Linked DNA regions of Homo sapiens. The protein of the gene in region 4 interacts with the protein of the main gene of each other region in a pairwise test. Each region holds a gene or a part of one and is shown on either strand. Other genes may lie near its edges.

Evidence for each region. Proteins that work in one complex are often made in the same cells at the same time.
Region 1: the proteins of MAGOHB (region 4) and SPDYE4 interact in binary tests that used the Homo sapiens proteins (3 or more experiments, as listed by UniProt).
Region 2: the proteins of MAGOHB (region 4) and ZNF398 interact in binary tests that used the Homo sapiens proteins (3 or more experiments, as listed by UniProt).
Region 3: the proteins of MAGOHB (region 4) and TADA2A interact in binary tests that used the Homo sapiens proteins (3 or more experiments, as listed by UniProt).

Annotation. Positions count from the first base shown.
Region 1 is NC_000017.11:8,752,950-8,755,546, reverse strand, and holds part of SPDYE4 (speedy protein E4), read left to right. Parts: coding exon 1-27; intron 28-2,057; coding exon 2,058-2,226; intron 2,227-2,349; coding exon 2,350-2,409; 3' UTR 2,410-2,453; intron 2,454-2,597.
Region 2 is NC_000007.14:149,167,953-149,171,452, forward strand, and holds part of ZNF398 (zinc finger protein 398), read left to right. Parts: intron 1-3,500. UniProt on the Homo sapiens protein: Functions as a transcriptional activator.
Region 3 is NC_000017.11:37,409,886-37,413,385, reverse strand, and holds part of TADA2A (transcriptional adapter 2-alpha), read right to left. Parts: intron 2,118-3,500; 5' UTR 2,021-2,117; coding exon 1,996-2,020; intron 1-1,995. UniProt on the Homo sapiens protein: Component of the ATAC complex, a complex with histone acetyltransferase activity on histones H3 and H4. Required for the function of some acidic activation domains, which activate transcription from a distant site. Binds double-stranded DNA.
Region 4 is NC_000012.12:10,607,152-10,610,609, forward strand, and holds part of MAGOHB (protein mago nashi homolog 2), read right to left. Parts: intron 2,791-3,458; coding exon 2,680-2,790; intron 2,233-2,679; exon of another isoform or gene 1,947-2,232; intron 786-1,946; coding exon 703-785; intron 1-702. UniProt on the Homo sapiens protein: Required for pre-mRNA splicing as component of the spliceosome. Plays a redundant role with MAGOH in the exon junction complex and in the nonsense-mediated decay (NMD) pathway.

The sequences.
Region 1 (2,597 bases), on a different chromosome or scaffold from region 4:
CCAACGCATTCATTTCTTCCTGGCTCTGTGAGTAGTTTGCTTCTTCCCATCTGTCAATATCCAACACCCTGGGACAGTGGACGAAGTGGGATTCCAACCTTCCATCTATTTTTTTACCCTACTTCTCCTCTTTACTCTGTATATAAAAACGATAAGATTATACTATGGTGTTCTTAGTCTGTTCTTTCTAAAAACAAACACAAATGCAGTTGACAAATAGTAGAATCAAACAAAAGGAAACATAAACCCGTCCTAAGGGGAAAGGAAAGCCGTGGACACGACCCTGCTCCCCAAGCAAGCAGCCATTTCTGGTTCTCTCGTCTCTCTCCTTCCCATATCAACACCAAATGCAATTTTCCATCCTCCTTCTCCAGGTTCCCATGACAGAGGCAGAAATTCAGGTCGTCCTCGCATAACACAGATCCATCATCAAATACTCCCTGCTGGGCATTCCTGCGAGTCCTGCCCCAAGCCAGGGGGCTTCCTAGTGCTGCCTGAATAGCTTTCCAAAGCACAGCTCCCACCCCCCCTTCACTGCCCACCTGAACAACCTCCTTAGCTGATTTGTCTCTAAACGGAGGCCCGGGTCCACAGGGCTAATTCAACCCTCTCTGCAGTCCTTCTACCACCAAACCTGCCCACCATCTTCATCTTTCCTTGTTTGCTTTCGCCACTCCTTCCAAATGCCCTCCACTCCATTTTGATTTTGTGTTTTCTGTCTGGGTGTCCTGCACACATGTGGATCTGAAGGGAATGACCCATTCCTTAAAGTCAGTTCAACCCCACAGCCTTTGCAATGCCTCCCCTGATCTTCCAGCTTCTGCACGCCCACAGCACTTTAGTGACATCCTAGGATAATGTGACATTTTGGATTCGTTTATCTGCCCTCCTTTTCCCCAAACCCATCAGAGTAGACCCCTGTTGAAGGCAGGGTCTTGTCAAAATATCAAAGTTTTTTGTTTTTATCTTTACCGGACAGAGACTTGCTCTGTCCCTCAGGCTGGAGTGCAGTAGCCAGATCATAGCTCACCGCAGCCTCCATCTCCTAGGCTCTAGTGAAGCTCCCACCTCAGCCTCCTGAGTAGCTGGGACTACAGGTGCATGCCACCACATCTAGCCAGTTTTTATGATTTTTAGTAGAGATGACGTTTTGCTATGTCACCCAGGCTGTTCTGGAACTCCTGGGTTCTCACCTCAGCCTCTCAGAGTGCTGGTATTATAGACATGAGCCACCCAATCAGCCAAAATATCAAAGTATTCCTGAAACACTCAGCACAATTCTTTTCATTTTGCAAGTGCTCATGTTATATTGACTCTATGGAATAATTCATATGGCATTTGCCTATAAGATAAATCTTTCCTTCTTTCCTTCATTCATTCATGTATTCATTTATTCAACAAAACCTTATGAAGTTCATCATATGTGCCAGGGAATAGGAAGGATGGGAAGGGAGAGTTCACAGCAATGCTTGTTGAATTAATGCACCAAGATAAACAAAGCCCTCTAGTGGCCTTTTGGTAGGTGAGAGATGATTTACAGAAACACACCAGTCAGTTCCTGTCCTTGGGGGCACTTATGATGCACGGGGGAAGACAGGTGTGTGCATACATGACAAGGAAGGGGGGTGTGGGAGGAACAGGGATGGGGACTAGGATGAGGTGACGTCATCTGTCTTGTATAAGGATGGCAGGACACATCCTTAGCATAAGACTTGGGTTGTTTTTAAATTCAGAGGGGGTCTTGCCATATTACCCAGACTGGTCCCTAACTCCTGGCCTCCAGTGATCCTCCTGCCTGGACTCCCAAAGTGCTGGGATTCCAAGCAAGAGCCACCACTCCCAGCTACCACTTGGATCATCTCCTTCCTGAAGGTTTGAGAGGCACCCTTAGCAGGTCTCTGTCCAGCGGGGCCTCCTGAGGAAGGCAGGGCTCTCTGCAGGGCGGCTGTTGGTGCTGAGCTGAGGAAGGTCCCCTGCCCTCCTCTCTGAGAGGCTGCCCTCAGGCAGGGGTCCCTCCTGGTGGGGCCCCTGAGCAGCAACCTGATCTCTCTCCCCAGCTACCTGGCCAGTGACATGGAGGAGGACAACCAGGCCCCGAAACAAGACATCTTCTCCTTCCTCTACGGGAAGAACTACTCCCAGCGACCCTTGTTCCATAAGCTTCGATACCAGCTCCTCTGTTCCATGCGCTGGAGGACGTGGGTTTCCCCAGAGGAGATGGAGGAGGTAGGTGGGGCCATATGAGGAGGTGGGGGTGGGGAGGGATGGGGTGGACTGGAGGCTGGAGGAGGGCAGAGAGGGGGCTTCCTGGGGAATCCCTGGCTTCTCAAGTGGTGTGTGTTTTTCCAGATCCAGGCTTATGACCCAGAGCACTGGGTGTGGGCCCGAGATCGCACCCTCATTTCCTAGAGCTCCGGGGACATGGAGGCCTGAGGTCATCGGCCTGAGGGAAGGTACGTGTGTATCCTCCAGGGTAAAGGCAGAATATTCTCATCTATAAGAAAATCCAAGGAACTCAACTGCTTGATCCAGCTTCAAGCCTGGTCAACATGGCGACACCCCGTCTCCACAAAAATACAAAAATTAGCCGGGCGTCC
Region 2 (3,500 bases), on a different chromosome or scaffold from region 4:
GTTAAAATATTTTTATAGTGAACACCTGGATATCCAGCGCCTAAATTCTGCCACTAACATTATACCATCCTTCCTTATCATGCATATATCTATCACTGCATCACTCCATCCAGCCATCCGTCTATTATTTATTTATTTATTTTGGAGATGGAGTCTCACTCTGTCGCCCAGGCTGGAATGCAGTGGTGCGATCTTGGCTCACTGCAACCTCCACCTCCTGGATTAAAGTGATTCTCTGGCTCAGCCTCCTGAGTAGCTGGGATTACAGGTGCCCACCACCACGCCTGGCTAATTTTTGTATTTTTAGTAGAGACAGGGTTTCAGCATGTTGGCCAGACTGGTCTCGAACTCCTGACCTCAAGTGATCTGCCTGCCTTGGCCTACCAAAGTGCTGGGATTACAGGCATGAGCCACCGCACCCAGCCATCTATCCTATTTTTGATGTATTTCAAAATCAGTGAAGACATCAATGCATTTTCCTGTAAATAGTTCAGCATGAATATTATTAACCTAGAGTTCAATATTTGTTTTTTTCTTTTCAGGTAAATTTTACATATAATGAAATTTCAAGTCTTAATTGAGTTTTAAGCAATGTACACATCTGCCTCACATTTATTATTATTATTATTATTTTGAGATGGAGTCTCACTCTGTCGCCCAGGCTAGAGTGCAGTGGCGTGATCCTGGCTCACTGCAACCTCCGCCTTCCAGGCTCAAGTGATTCTCCAGCCTCAGCCTCCTGAGTAGCTGGGATTCCACGCCCGGCTAATTTTTGTGTTTTTAGTAGAGATGGGGTTTCACCATGTTGGCCAGGCTGGTCTTAAACTCCTGACTTCAAGTGATCCACCCGCCTTGGCTTCCCAAAGTGCTGGGATTACAGGAGTGAGCCACCACGCCCGGCCATATTATTTTTTAAGAATGTGTAGGTGATTGCATTTAGTCAGTGTAACACGTTGCATTTTACTAATCTTTATATCACAGATATAAGTAATGAGGCTAAAATAATACCACCAATAAAGATGAGTGACTTGACTACAGAAAGATTTCTTATTGGGTATATTTCTTTGGTCTACATTATTAGTTATCTGTCATAGACCTCAGCAAGTACAAATGAATATATCATTGTATTTTATGGGATGGGTGAAAAAGATAACAAGTAATTAGGTTTTGTGATAACGTATCAAAGTTTCATTTTGCTGTTATCTTGTCAGTTTGTTTTTACCATGGGTTTTCAAGATGCTCATGCCTCAACCCCCTGAGTAGCTGGGACTATAGGCATGTGCCACCATGCCCAGCTAATTTTTGTATTTTTAGTAACGATGGGGTTTTGCCATGTTGGCCAGGCCGGTCTTGAACTCCTGACCTCAGGTGACCCACCCACCTCGGCCTCCTAAATTGCTGGGATTACAGGCATGAGCCACCGTGCCTGGCCTGTTATTTTCTGTTGGTTGATCAAATTGTCAGCTTCACAATTTCTTTCGTTTGTTTGTTTGTTTTTAAGACAAGGTCTGGCTCTATTGCCCAGGCTAGAGTGCAGTGCCATGATCAGAGTGCAGTGCCATGATCTGAGATCAGTGCAGCCTGTGCCTCCTGGGCCCAAGCCATCCTCCCATCGCAGCCTCCCAAGTAGCTGGGACTACAGGCACACACCACCATGCCTGGCTAATTTTTGTATTTTCTGTGGAGATGGGGGTTTGCCATGTTGCCCGGGCTGGTTTTGAACTCGTGAACTCAAGTGATTCACCTGCTTCGGCCTTCCAAGGTGCTAGGGTTACAGGCCTGAGCCACCACACCCAACCTCAGTACTTGTTTTCTTAAAAAAAAATATGCTCCTGGCTCTGTTGGAGGGCCCAAAGACCACTCCCAGATTTCGTGATCTGCTAGGAGGACTCACAGGATTCCCATATGGTTGTACTCACAGCAAGATTTGTTAGAATGATACAAAGTAATATCAGCAAAGGGAAAAGGTACCTGGGACAAAGTCTGCAGGAAACCAGGGACAGGCTTCCCAGAGTCCTCTCCCAGTGGAGTCTTATAGGATATGCTTAATTGTTCCAGTAATGAGTTGTAACAACCAGAAAAGCTCATTAGAGACTCAGTGCCCAAGGTTTTTATTGGGGGCTAATCACATGCATACCCTCTGTCTAGCACTTACCCAAATTCCAGACTCATAGAAGGAAAGCACGTGTTCTGCATATACCACACTGTTTGACAAACACAATCATGCGCTGCTGAACAATGGGGATATCTTCTGAGAAATGCATCATTAGTTGATTTTGTCATTGTGCAGACATCACAGCGTGAACTCACACAAACTAGATGATGTAGCTTTCTATGTACCTAGGCTATATAGTATAGCCTATTGCTTCTAGGCTACAAACTTGTACAGCATATTATTGTCCTGAATACTGTAGGCCATTGTAACACAATGGTAATTGTGTTTGTAAACACATGTAAAGATAGGAAAGGTACAGCAAAAATCTGGTGTAAAAGATACAAAATGAGCTGGGCACAGTGGCTCATGCCTATAATCCCAGCACTTTGAGGCCAAGGCGGGTGGATCATGAGGTCAGGAGATAGAGACCATTCTGGCTGACACGGTGAAACCCTGTCTCTACTAAAAATCCAAAAAATTAGCCAGCCATGGTGGTGGGCGCCTGTAGTCCCAGCTACTCGGGAGGCCAAGGCAGGAGAATTGCTTGAACCCAGGATGCGGAGGTTGCAGTGAGCCGAGATTACACCACTGCACTCCAGCCTGGGCAACAGAGCGAGACTCCATCTCAAAAAAAAAAATACAAAATGGTACATCTCTATAGGGCACTTGCCATGAATGGAGCTTGCAGGACTGGAAGTTGTTCTCACTGAGTCAGTGAGTGAATGTGAAGGCCTAGGACATTACTAGGCTGTAGACTTTATAAACACTGTATACTTAGGCCACACTAAATTTATAGAAACATTTTTTCTTTTTTTTTTTTGAGCCTCCTGGGTTCAAGTGATTCTCCTGCCTCAGCCTCCTGAGTAGCTGGGACTGCAGGCACGTGCCACCACGCCCGGCTAATTTTTTTTTTTTTTTTTTTAGAAGAGATGGGGTTTCACCATGTTAACCAGGATGGTCTCGATCTGCTGACCTCATGATCCACCTACCTTGGCCTCCCGAAGTGCTGGGATTATAGGCATGAGCCACCGCGCCTGGCCAAGAAATTTTTTCTTTAACCATAAATTAACCTTAGCTTACTGTATTACTTTATAATACAGTAATATACTTATAATACTACTTTATAATATAGTAATATACTTTTATTATTTTATAACTTTCTGACTTTTGTAATAACACTTAGTGTAAAACATATTGTACATATATACAAAAATATTTTTTCTTTATACCCTTTTTCTATAACTTTTTCCTATTTTTAAATTTTTTTACTTATTTTTTTGAAATGAAGTCTTGCCCTGTCGCCCAGGCTGGATTGCAGTGGCGCAGTCTCCGCTCACTGCAACTT
Region 3 (3,500 bases), on a different chromosome or scaffold from region 4:
TTGGACACTCCCAGCATTAGAGCAGTCCACTTAGATTTCTCTACATGTAAAATGAAAGAGTTGAACTAGATGTGTCTGAAGACTCCATTCTCTCCTAAATTTATATTAGGAGTGTGATCAAAAAGTAAATTAGAGCTCCTTTAAGAAATTGTTCTGTCAGGCCGGGAGCGGTGGCTCACGCTTGTAATCCCAGCACTTTGGGAGGCCAAGGCTGGTGGATCACCTGAGGTCAGGAGTTCAAGACCAGCCTGACCAACAAGGTAAAACCCTGTATCTACTAAAAATACAAAAATTAGCCGGGCGTGGTGGCAGACGCCTATACTCCCAGCTACTCGGGAGGCTGAGACGGAGAATTGCTTGAACCCGGGAGGTGGAGGTTGCAGTAAGCCGAGATCATGCCACTGCACTCCAGCCTGGGTAATGCAGCAAGACTCCATCTCAAAAAAAACACGAATTGTTGAAGAGGAAACAACACCCAAAAAGTACTTTTCTGATTCTTCTCATTAGGATACTACTAAACATCTAACAATGGAATTTCTATTTCTGCCAAATCTCATATATTCAGAATCAGGGAAAAAGAGCAGTATAATTTTTTTTTTTTTGAGACAGATTCTTGCTCTTGTCACCCAGGCTGGAGTGCAGTGGCATGATCTTGGTTTACTGTAGCCTCTGCCTCCCAGGTTCAAGCGATTCTCCTGCCTCAGCTCCCGTGTAGCTGGGATTATAGTTACTCGCCATTACCCCCAGCTAATTTTTGTATTTTTAGTAGAGACGGGGTTTTGCCTTGTTGGCCAGGCTGGTCTCAAACTCCTGACCTCATGATCCACCCACCTCGACCTCCCAAAGTGCTGGGATTACAGGCGTGAGCCATGGCACCTGGCCAGTATAATTTTTTTATCCATAGTTATGGCTACTTGAATTTACTTCATACATACCCCATAATTCTCTAAATTATTCTACCGTGGTTTACTCTTAGAAACAAGTTCCACATCAAGGGGGAGGTGGGATGATCTTTCCTTTATCTTACCACTGACACATTTCTTATCAAGGTGCCTGAAACATGTTATTGGTCTAAACAGAAATCCCATGGCTTTTCTAGGTTTAACTACAGGTTAATCAGAATATGCCTGGTCCATCTCAGCCTCATTTTCTTTTTTTTTTTTTTTTCTTTTTTTGAGACAGAGTCTCACTCTGTCGCCCAAGCTGGAGTGCAGTGGCACAATCTCAGCTCACTGCAAGCTCCGCCTCCCGGGTTCATGCCATTCTCCTGCCTCAGCCTCCCAAGTAGCTGGGACTACAGGCGCCTGCCACCATGCCTGGCTAATTTTTTTTATTTTTTACTGGAGACGGGATTTCACTGTGTTAGCCAGGATGGTCTCCATCTCCTGATCTCGTGATCTGCCTGCCTCGGCCTCCCAAAGTGCTGGGATTACAGGCGTGAGCCACCACGCCCGGCTGCTTCATTTTCTTGTAAGACCCAGGGTCATATGTTTGTGTCATGTGTTCAATGGGTAATCAATATGTATTAATTGATTTTATTTTGATACTCATAATTCCCTTAGAATCAGAGTCAAAGGGCTTTATTGCCTAACTTCATCGTTTATTTTTCTTCCTTGATCAACTTCCACTCTAGTTTGCTATTAATAGTCACCTGAAGGCCGGGAGTGGTGGCTCACACCTGTAATCCCAGCACTTTGGGAGGCCGAGGTGGGTGGATCACCTGAGGTCGGGAGTTCAAGACCAGTCTGGCCAACATGGTAAAACCCTATCTCTACTAAAAATAAAAATAAAAAAAATTAGCTGTGTGTGGTGGTGCGCGCCTGTAGTCCTAGCTACTCAGGCGGCTGAGGCAGGAGAACCGTTTAAAGCCGGGAGGCAGAAGTTGCAGTGAGCCAACATCATGCCACTGTACCCCAGCCTGGGCAACAGAGGGAGAGTCCATCTCAAAAAAAAAATAATAATAAGTCACCTGAGACTTGTTCCCACTGTACTTACTGCTAAAGGAACCCAAACGGTCCATTCCCTAATTGGCAACGAGTGCTGCTTTGGTCTTCCTCAGCAGAGCTTCTTCAAGACTTCAGAACCGGCCAACACATACACCAAAGCTTGATGACTCCCTAGGAACAAACAAAAGTGGCACATGGATCAGAAAATCATTCAAAGGGACAAGATAAAGAGAAGATATGCAACATACTCAGCTCTGCCACATCTTAGCTTTGTAATGTTGAAAAATTATTCCACCTCTGAAAACCTGTTTCTTCCTCTGTAGTGGGTATAACAGTGCCTACCTTCCAAAGTTGTGAGAATTAAATGTTATAATCAAATATCATAATCCATATAAGTAATGTAGCATGGTACCTGGTCCTCTATAAATGCTACATATTTTTCTTTTTTATGAGGAAGGATCTGGGTCTATGGGGCACTGAGGGTGGCAGGGGCAAATGCTACATATTTCTAATAAACAACTGTTGGCTTTCTCTACTCAGCATCATTTCTCTCCTTAGCTGCCATCTTTATTTGGGAAACTGACCCTCCCACATTTCATGTGATACTGGTGGGGCTGCCAATCACAATACCCCATTCCCCACCCCTGACAAAAGCTAAAGCAACCAGGTCTCTTCTTCCAGAAATCTGGATCTTGAGTAAGACATGAAAGGACAGAAGGCAGTTGGAGCTTAGTTATTCACTAGAATTCATTCAAAGAATTCAGTCCATGTGCTCTGGCTGTTGAAATCCCTAGCCCCAGGTGGCTCAACTGTTTAACTCTTCTCTCATTTCTCTCTCTTTAATAAACTTTAATAAACTCAACTTTAATCATAAGACTGAACGAGTTTCTGTAACTGGAAACCAAAAAATCCTATCTATTACAACATACATTTGTTCCTCACTCTTTCAACAAGTACGTAACAGGGCCAGGCACAGTGGCTCATGCCTGTAATCCCAGCACTCTGGGAGGCTGACGTGGGAGGATTACTGGGACCCAGGAGTTCAAGACCAGCCTGGGCAACATAGGGAGACCCCATCTCTTAAAAAAAAAAAAAAAAAGTTAGCCGGGTACAGTGGCCCATGCTTATGGTTCCAGCTACTCAGGAGGATGAGGTGGAACGCTTGGGCCTAGGAGGTCGAGGATGCAGTGAGCCACCACTGCACTCCAGCTTGGAGGACAGACTAAGTCTCTTTTTCTTTTTTTTTTGGAGACACAGTCTGGCTCTGTTGCCCAGGCTGGAGTACTCATTGCAACCTCTGCCTCCCAGGTTCAAGGGATTCTCATTCTCCATTTGGTTCTCATTTTTGATTCTTGTGTCTTGTGCCTCAGCCTCCTGAGAAGCTGGGATTACAAGCATGTGCCACCACCATACCTGGCTAATTGTTTTGTATTTTTAGGAGAGACAGGGTTTCACCATGTTGGCCAGGCTGGTCTCGAACTCTTGGCCTCAAGTGATCCGCCCACCTCGGCCTCCAAAAGTGCTGGAGTGCTGGGATTACAAGTGTGAGCCACC
Region 4 (3,458 bases):
TTCTCCTTTCCACTAACAAATATTTATTGAAAGCATCTATTATGTGCAGGGCACTATGCTAACTCTGTGGATACAGCAAGGTTCTCAAGGAGCTTACATTCAAACCAGTAAAGCAGACAAATAGGTTATTACAATTCAGGGTGACAGAAAAAAGTAAGAGCACTATGGGGACACTTTGAGGGGAATGGGCACAAATAAAAATAAGTGGCTAGGATCAGACCAAGAAAATGGGATGTGCTACAAAACCCTGGGGCAGAGGAGAGACAGATCTTGGGAAGACATCGATAGCTAAAGCATACTTAGGCCATAATGGATTTTTTCCATCTTTTTCCCAAGTATTGAGCCCAAGAAGGACAGTGAGATGATATAGGCCTAATGAGGCTGACATAATCCAATAAGGATTTCTTTCCTTTGGATTTGCTGATACTGTATCCACATTTTTATACAAAGTAGCTAATACAACTTGGGCATTATTATATACAGCTGTTGGATTAAAAGTTTTTGGACAATCAATGAAATACTCTGCTAACTTCTACTGAGAGACAAGATAATAAGCCTTTAATGACATAAAAATCAGGATTACATCTGCATAATAAACTGATAGGATGCCACTGAAATTATCTTGGCTAGCAAACTGACTATAGTTCTAAAATGAGCCTCTGTAATAATGAAAACTTCGCCAAAATGCTTTAACATACTTACTTTGACTGATTTACATCAATAAGAGAACCTATTTTTGATGTGGTAAAAGATATGTGCTCATCTCCAATTACAATTTCAAGCTCCTAAAAAATATAGCAGAAAAATGTAGTTAATATAAAAATCTATCCCAGAGGTATCTGTATTCTTGCTACAAGCAGATCCCAATTTTAGTTGCAAGTTTTCTAGCAGCCAACAGAGGGAGTGGGGGGCGAGGGGGAAAGAAACATGGTTTCTTAGATATAAACTATATCCTTAAAATAAAGACTGCTCACGCGCACTACCCCCAAGTTTAGGACCAACAAAGAATTGCTTTCCAGAGACATAAAGAAGACACTATGAAACAAAATGACAAAGAAATATTTCTTACAATGTCAGTAAAAACTAAAGACATCACTTTGAAGCACATGTTGTAAAAATGATTGGAGTATAAGACCATTTTTAATATGATAAATACACATTTTTTCTTTCTGGAAGATTCTACAAATAAAATGTGTAATATTAATAACCACCACCACTTTAGCACCTACTGTATGTCAGGCCCTAGTGGTAGGGACTTTGTACTCTCTGTAATCTTGAAAATAACCTTACTAACCTATTTTACAAATGTGTAATCCAAAACTCATAGAGCAGAAGAAAATACTTGTTGATATTTATAACCACTAATAATGATGGTACTTATATTTGATCCCAAGATGGTAAGACTTCAAAACTAATACTCCACAAAATAACTAAAATTAAGAACTAGTAAAAAAAAAAAAAAAAAACCAACCTAATGTAGATGTTCCTAGTGTGCTGTAATTACTGTATAGATTTTTCCCTATATTGTTTATCTGCAGGCCTAAAACCAATAATTAAAAAGCTATATCTGTAATGAATCTTCAAGTTAACAGACACTATTGAAGACAATCCTAGCTATTTATTTAATCAGAGGCCTAATTATGCAGTTTATGACACACACAGAATGGAGAATTAGCTAAGATGCTCTAACAGCCATAAAACCTTTGACTTGATACAAAAGGCAATTTCTGAAGCATGCCTACTCCTCCCCACTAACCAAAACCCATGAACACATCCTTAAGTGAATAGATAAAATACTAGGCTCTCCCTGAGTCTAAATGATATAAAAGGTTAGCTGCTGTGGTTTGCTTTTTAGTACATATGTGTATCTGCATAAAACAAACTGAGGCCTAAATTTACTTTTTAAAAGTGATACGATGCTTAAAATAAATACTGTTAACTATTACCTTTGCTTTTCTAAATAATGCTTCTTTAAGCAGAAGACTTAAGTTACTCCTACAGAGTGTCAGCATGTGTTAGATTTCTCCACATTTTCTTCTATTCAAAGAAGGTGATACAAAGTACAATCCTCAGGGATATACAAAAGTGAAATTAAATGTTTCTTCCTTCCAGGGGTTGTTGAAGGAATTTCTCCAAGAGTTGAAAAGACCCAATTCAGAAACCAAACTTTCTTTTTACAGAGTGAAATTAGGCCTTCAGAGTTCTTCAGAAGCCTGAGAAACATCATTTATTCTGAAGGAATATGAGAGGGAAATGCAATCATCAGTTTTAACAAAGAAACCACCAATCAAGTTTCTCTCTGGGGTATAGGGATGCAAGTAAGAATTTTAGAAGTTATGATTTGGCAAAAATAAATTTTACATAGTCATATTCTTAATAAAAGTGATTAACACACAACAGAAATTATTCATAACACTGCATTGTGAAAACATCCTAACGTTGGCTGGGGTGACTACAGAGAAAGATGTCTAAATTTAGAGCTATGCACTGACTCCTTCACTACTAGGAGGTAGCACAGAAAAACAGAACTAAGAGATAAAATTAAAGAGAATTTACCAGGTGCCTATTAAATAGAAAGCCAAAGAATCAACTTAGACTCATTCCAAATAAATAACGGGAAACAAAATAGTATTATCAATTTTTAATATTTATACACTTAAAGAATCACTAAATACAAACCTGTCGGCCAACCCTATCAGGGGGAGGCCACAAAGCATCATCTTCTTTTGTAATTTCACTGTCATCAATAATTCTCTTCAGTTCTTCCATTACACTCTTGTGCACATAAGCCTAAAAATTAATCATAATAAAATGAGATAATGCCCACCTATGTCACCCCTCAACTCAGAAAGAAATGAGTTACAAACCCTGAATATCCAAATAGAGGAATATAGAAAAATTTAATTGATTCCAAAAGTAGAGGAGACAGAATCACTTATCCTTGTTACACTGCTTTTCTTCATCTCTTGCCCTTTCCTTTCACATACATTTTTTCCCTCTTCTCATCATTACCTGTCTTTCAAACACTGTATTCTGCCTTTGCAACACTGAGATCCAAATACCCACAAGTGGTTAACTTGTGTCATCACAAGATCTATAAGGTGAACTGTAATAAATGCAAGTATACTGAGGCAGGAGAATCGCTTGAGCCTGGGAGGCAGAGGTTGCAGTGAGCTGAGATCAAGCCACTGCACTCCAGCTTGGGTAACAGAGCGAGACTCTGTCCCTAAATCAATAAATCAATAAATGCAAGTGTAGTTCACGTCAAGGTTAGTTCTCTGAACTTTCTCATTCCTATGGATGCAAACACTGTATCTAATTTAAATGGAAACTCTTTCAATCTATAAATTGCCTTCTTCTTTACAATATAGCCTTAGATGTACTTTTTTAAATTCAACACAGACTTGAAGAAAATGGGCTAAATGCAAAAAAAAAAAAAAAAAAAAAAAAGACATTCA